Linked DNA regions of Homo sapiens: region 1 is linked to region 2. Evidence: fine-mapped expression QTL. A gene starts in region 2. The other region holds a variant in brackets. All regions are shown on one strand. Distances are from middle to middle. Region 1 overlaps LOC105373449 (a long non-coding RNA gene). Region 2 holds the start of SMC6 (structural maintenance of chromosomes 6).

The links.
Region 1: its variant is fine-mapped to the expression of SMC6 in lymphoblastoid cells (GTEx, PIP above 0.99).

Annotation. Positions count from the first base shown.
Region 1 is chr2:17,791,081-17,793,986 of GRCh38, reverse strand. The region is part of intron 3 of LOC105373449 (a long non-coding RNA gene); the gene reads left to right. Among named protein-coding and RNA genes, the nearest start is that of MSGN1, 24 kb to the left of the region's middle. RefSeq lists a silencer at 2,131-2,425. The variant C/G (reference allele first, on the strand shown) is at 1,213.
Region 2 is chr2:17,752,375-17,755,280 of GRCh38, reverse strand. It overlaps SMC6 (structural maintenance of chromosomes 6), which reads left to right and starts at 1,471. Exons shown (of 28, transcript NM_001142286.2): 1 at 1,471-1,655; 2 at 2,217-2,303. It overlaps GEN1 (GEN1 Holliday junction 5' flap endonuclease), which reads right to left and starts at 1,143. Exons shown (of 14, transcript NM_001130009.3): 1 at 936-1,143. RefSeq lists silencers at 1,356-1,495, 1,636-1,995.

The sequences.
Region 1 (2,906 bases), 39 kb before region 2:
GGAAGAGGGTCTGTGCTCTCTGCGGTTACCTGAGGTCCTGGTCTTGCCAGCTATCACTGTAGAGTCAGTTATGTCTCTGAGTCAGGGCTCATCTGGAGCACAAGGATAGTAACTAATTTTACCTCACTGGGTTGTAGTGAAGATTAAATGAGATAAAGCACCCGGCACATTGAAATATTTGTTAATGTGACTTGTTTCCTTCTTTTACTTTAACATAGCAAAGCTGCAGTATTTTAGTAAATCTGATACCAGTTATTTTGCACTAGTCATTCTCTGAAACTCAGTTTTAGATGGCTTTCTGGGTTCCCTCCAGCTGCAAAAATATAAGTATCTGAGACTCTGAGTTTGTTTCCAATAGGCTTTCTCTGGGTTGGAGAGACTGTTCCACAAAGCCCAGGAGGCTGCAGATGACAGTACCAAACCAAGACATGCAGCTGTCCGGCTGCAGTAGTCTGTGTGAAAGATGAGTAGAAAGAGAGGAAAAAGTCAGAGCTCAAGAAGAGCTCTAAAAGAAAAGACAGCTGCAAGTTTGTCCTCGAGTAAATCAAATTGTGACGTTTATTGGGCTATTTCCAGAATAACACCTGCAAGAAAACTGGAGTGCAGGATTACCTTTCCAAGAAGGATTTAGTTACGATAGCCTACAATAACCAGTATTGTCTAATGGAGTCAGTGTGGCTTAATGAAAAGGTTATAGGTTTGGCGGTGCACAGACCTAGGTTTTAGTTCTGTCGCTCCTACTTTTTATTAGTGATTTGGAGCAGGTTATTTAACCTCCATGCCTCATTTTCCTCCTCACTTAAAAAAAGGTAAATAATATGAACCTTGCAGGGTGATTGTGCGGGTTAGGAAGAAAAGTACTTGATATACAGCTGATATTCAATAAATAGGAGCTATATGGCTAGGAGCACATTACACCAGGGCACATATCCTAGAGGCCTCTGGACCTGGGACCATCATTTCTGAAGCTTATAGCTTGTTCAGGGTAGAGAACTGAGGGGGGTTTGGGAGGAGGCAGCAAGTCTGGGGTGGGTAGGTAGAGAGCAGAAAAGAGATCAAAAGGCCTATAAAGATCTGTCAAACTTTAAAATGCAAATCCTGTTGTGGCTCAGTAGAGACCAAATCTTTCATTATCACCTCTCTGGGAAGGGCTTGAGGGGTGGGGGGGTGGGAAGGTTAATTAGTCTTTCCCTTCATGGAGTGTTTTGGTTT[C/G]GTGTGGTGTGGTTTTGTGGCCAAGCCTGGGTATGTGATAAATCTTTTATTCAACTCTGCCCTGGAAACATGGGTAGAGTTAAGAAACTAACAGCATATGGTTTTCTTTATGAGTAGACCATGAGTTCCTCAAGGAAAGGAAACTATCTAACCCTTGTGATAGCTCCTACAGTTTGCAAGATTCTTGGCATAGAGTATTTGCTTCCTGAATGGATGGATGGGGTGGTGGATGGATGAATGTTAATTCTGAGCATAGTAAGTCATCTTCACTGGCTGGCAATTTAGTTCTCAGGGGTCTCCTTGCTCTATCCTTCACTGGGAGCCATGATAGGAGCAATCCTCATGATGGTGGCCCTCTGGGAAACTCTGGGATGGTGCAGTCTCTTCCAATGGCCAAGGGTCTGTGCAGTCCAATCACTTGGGCAGATTATGCTGCATGGCAGCTTTGCCTTACTGCTGGCCCTAAAGAGGTAGCCTCCTAGGTCCCACAGTTGGCCATTTATTTCTGGAGAGAGCGTGGAATTCCAGGAAAGTCCCACAGAGGAGACCTTCAAGAGTAAGTGGGCCAATAATTATCTGGCACTCACTGTGTGCCAGTCTCGATCCATCTTGCCCCTACCACAACCATGGCCAGAGTGAGAAAGAAGAAACCTCACTGCCTTGCTTTCTCTTTCCTCCTTTCCTCTTCTCTTGCCCGCGTTTTCTCATAAAACTATACTTGTAAGTAAAGAGTGAGGCTTTTTTCCAGAAAAAAGTATCTAGCAAATGTCCCTCTCTGGAATGCCCTAAAACACATGTCATTGATGACTCTTTCCTGGATAAACTCACTGATTCTCTAAGTCTCATCCAAGACCTGACAGTCTTACCCTCCCCCTAACTGGCATCCACCACAAAAGGCTCCTATCAAGTTTCTCAGCTCTAGGAGGCCCTATAAGGACCACCTGTATCTTCACTGACCACTCTCTTCTACATTCTGGTGCCCTCTGATACATTTCCCTTCACTCAGCACTTACTGTATTTGTTATCTCAAGAATAAATGAGTCTGGCATCACAACTAACTTATAAACATCTTGAAGGGAGGAAGCAGATGTTTTCCCATGTACTTGGCAGTATGCCTGTCCCAGGACTGAATCCATCTTAAGAATTCAATAAAAAATTGCAGCATGTTCGTGGTCAAAGCCTGGGCTTTGTCTTTACATAGATTTGGGTTGAAAAGCTAACTTGATTTATTCATTGAACAAGTATGTATTAAATGCATACTGCATATTAGGCACTGTTCAAAGCTCTGGGAATACAACAAAGAGTAAAGCAAAGTTTATTCTCTTGTTATGTTACTCTAGTGATAGGAGACAAAGAAAAAAATCTAATAAGTTGTAAAGAAAATAATACAGGGTGAGAGGCAAGTGTGAAGGAGTGGTGGTAGGAGTGGGAGGTGGCTACTTAGCTAACGTGCTCACAAAAGTACTAGCCAAGAGGCTGAGACCTCGGTGGTGATAAACAGCTTACCATCCAGAGGTCTGTGGGAAGTCCACACAGAGTGGGCAGCAATGGCAAGAGCCAGAGTGTACAGTAAGCTTGGTATGTTTAAGGAAAGAAAGCAAGCCATGTGCCAAGGGCCAGGGGAGCAAGGGGAAGCGACGGAGGATGAGGTGAGGGAGACAGGTAGCCACAGCTGCTGAGGAGGCTGGGATTTA
Region 2 (2,906 bases):
CTTAGGAATCAAGGAACGGTTCCTGAAGCAAGTGACATGTAAGTAGGGACCTCCCAACCGTGTTTCCCATTGGTTACAACAAGGCCAGATGTTTTGGTCTATTTTGACTATGTCATATTTTTCGTTGATCCATGGCAAGGGCCACAGTAGGAATATAATATATATGTGATTACTTTTAGAAATAAAAAGTGACTTTGATGTAAAGAATTCCATTACCGGAGGCCAGAATTTCAACATCAATTTATTTGGAGGTGGAGTGAGGTGGCAGTCAATGCATTATTTTCCCCACACAGAAGAGAAGATTTTGGAGTATGAAAAGTAGGTTACTTGTTAGGTCAGCATATTCATGGGAAGGGTTGTGTAAAGACTGAAGCGGGAGTGTGGGGTTGAGAAGGGCGCTGAAACCTAAGCCAAGGAAGTTAAGACTTCATTACTTCTGACGTTTATTTAGGGGGTTTACACTCTAGGTTACCGTGGGGGAAAGACTGATTGTAAATAACTACAATACCTTAAAGTAATTACTATAACAGAACTATATCCGAAATACAAGGTTAACACGGAAAAGGGAACACCCAACTGTGCCTATGGGGACCAGGGAGGGCTCTCCCGGGATGGCTTTGAGCGAGGCGTGGGAATTATCCCCATCGCATGCCCGGGGGAAGCACAGCGGGACCCAGCAGCTTCGGCCAAGCGCAAGCGGCCGGAGAACGCGCAGCTTTCCCGAGGCGGGGTGACGCAGGGCCCTCGCGAGTGGAAAACAGGGGCCAAGTCGCGGCCTGGCGGCTCGGTTCGGACTTCCTACTTTATTCAAAGGGAGTCATTGAAGGCGTTTTCGGAGGAGCAGCGAACAAAGAGCTCGTCCGTAAGCCAGATGGTCAAAGGAATCAGTGGGAGGACCCGGGCGGCGCCGTCTCTCCACGTCCCGCGGGACTTACCCGGACAACCCTTCCTCCTTGGCTCTGGAAGAAGCCCCTTCGTCATTTACCAGTTTGGCCTGAATCCTAACTACTGTGCCTCCAAATTTCTGAATTTTCTCAAAAGGAAAAAAAAAAAGGAAAGTCCTCTTTCTTTACCCAAGCAAAGACTAGCTCCCCGGGCTCAACCGCCAGGCCCAGGAGCACCAGGAAGCGTTTCGAATCCAGCGCCGGGCCCGCGCGGCCCCGCCTCTTCCGGGAAGTGACTGACCCCTTTCCCCCAATGGGGCCCGCTCGGCTTTCCCTTGCCGGCTCCCAGCCGGCCTAGCGGACGCATGCGTAGACCAGCTGCCGGGGGCGCTCAATTATCTTTCCCTTTTACTTAGGCAAATCACTCACCTCCCCCGAGTCCGGTCACTGCGGAGCCGCCCGTGCCTACCAGCTTCCCCCACCCGCTAAGGGGCACTTCCGGCCTCTCAGACTCCGGCGGCGCGAAACCCCGCAACTGCGCAGGCGCGGGCGGAGCCCGAAGGGAGGGAGGGCGGGGCGCAGGCGCGGTTAGTACCGCGGTGGGCGCCGGGGCTCCCGGGAATCTACCTTCTCCTGCGGCCGGCACGCGGTTCCCAGGGGGCCAGCGGCGGTCAGCCGAGGTCGAGACGCCCGCAGGGTGGCCTTAGCGGCCGGTCGTACCACGGCAGCCCCGCCGATCAGGTTCCTTTGGGAGACTTCGACTTGTTGGCGGTAGGGTGAAGGCGCGCGCTGTCGCTTTCCCTTGCTCCGGGGTTCATCCTCCGCCCGCTGCCCCCTTGGCTGGCGACCCCCAGCCACCCGGGAGAGGCAGGGTCAGCTGAGCTGCGGCGGTGTTCATGGTCGTCCTTGCGGGCCCGGGCGGGAGATGTCCGTTCCTCGGGCGGGTCGGGCGGCCGGCGGCACCTTCGCGCGCTCTCCGAGGCGGCACCGGTCTCCTGAGCCGCGGGAAACCTGGCGTCTGCTCCGGGCCGTCCCCTCCCAGGCGGCCGTCCCCTCCCAGGCGGCCGTCCCCAGACTCTCCCGGGCTGTGGCGAATAACTGTAAAGCGGGGAGAGGTCTGGGGAAAGCTGGGGTAGGGAGTGGCTCTTAGCATGAGTCTGATGATATCTCGCAGGCGGCAACTGGTGTGTTTAAAGGGTGTATGCAAAGATCACTGAAATCGGATTTGTCATTAAAGCCCAGTTTTACGAAAATGCAAATTGTATTACCTAGAAAAATTAACATGTGTTCAAAGGTTTACTGATGGCATTTCTCTGCCCTCATTTCTTACAGAAATGAACCGGAGAAGAATCCCAATTGGGAATTGCGGAAAACAGGACTCTAGGGTAGAGAAAGGTTGTAGAACCAATAGGGTTTGAGGTAATACTGTGAAAATTCTTAGAGCAATCATTTGGTGTTTGAGCCCTCAAGACAGAAGTTTTGTGAGCGCTTATTACTCTGCATATGTCACGAGTAGTAGATTAAAAGCCAGTGTTTTAAAGGCAAACTTCTCAGTAATATATATTCAAAGGAAAAAAGAAAAACCCAAATCTCCTGACTTTTATATGGTTGCAGTGTGATCTTTTAACATGTACAATAGTATATACAGTGGCATGCAGTTTGTTCCATGGGTGTGTGGGTAGAGAGGGAACATATTAGAACTTCTATTTAGATTTATTTCATTTGATTTCTACGTGAAACATAGGGTATTAATTTTATGTTGGAACATGTATTTCAAATTTCTTTTGCTTAATGGGTGCAAGTACAAAACGTTTGGAGGCCACTAGTATATTGCCTAAAAGCGTGTATTTATATCACAAAAAGCCAGAATTGTGTGACTCTGAGCAGGTTGGTACCACCTCTTTAAGTTTCAGTTCTTCTTATGCAAGTTGGAAGAAATAATACAGTTATCAGTGCATCCTCTGTATCCGTGGACTCAATCAAGGGACTGAAAATATTTCAGAGGAAAAAAAGTGGATGGTT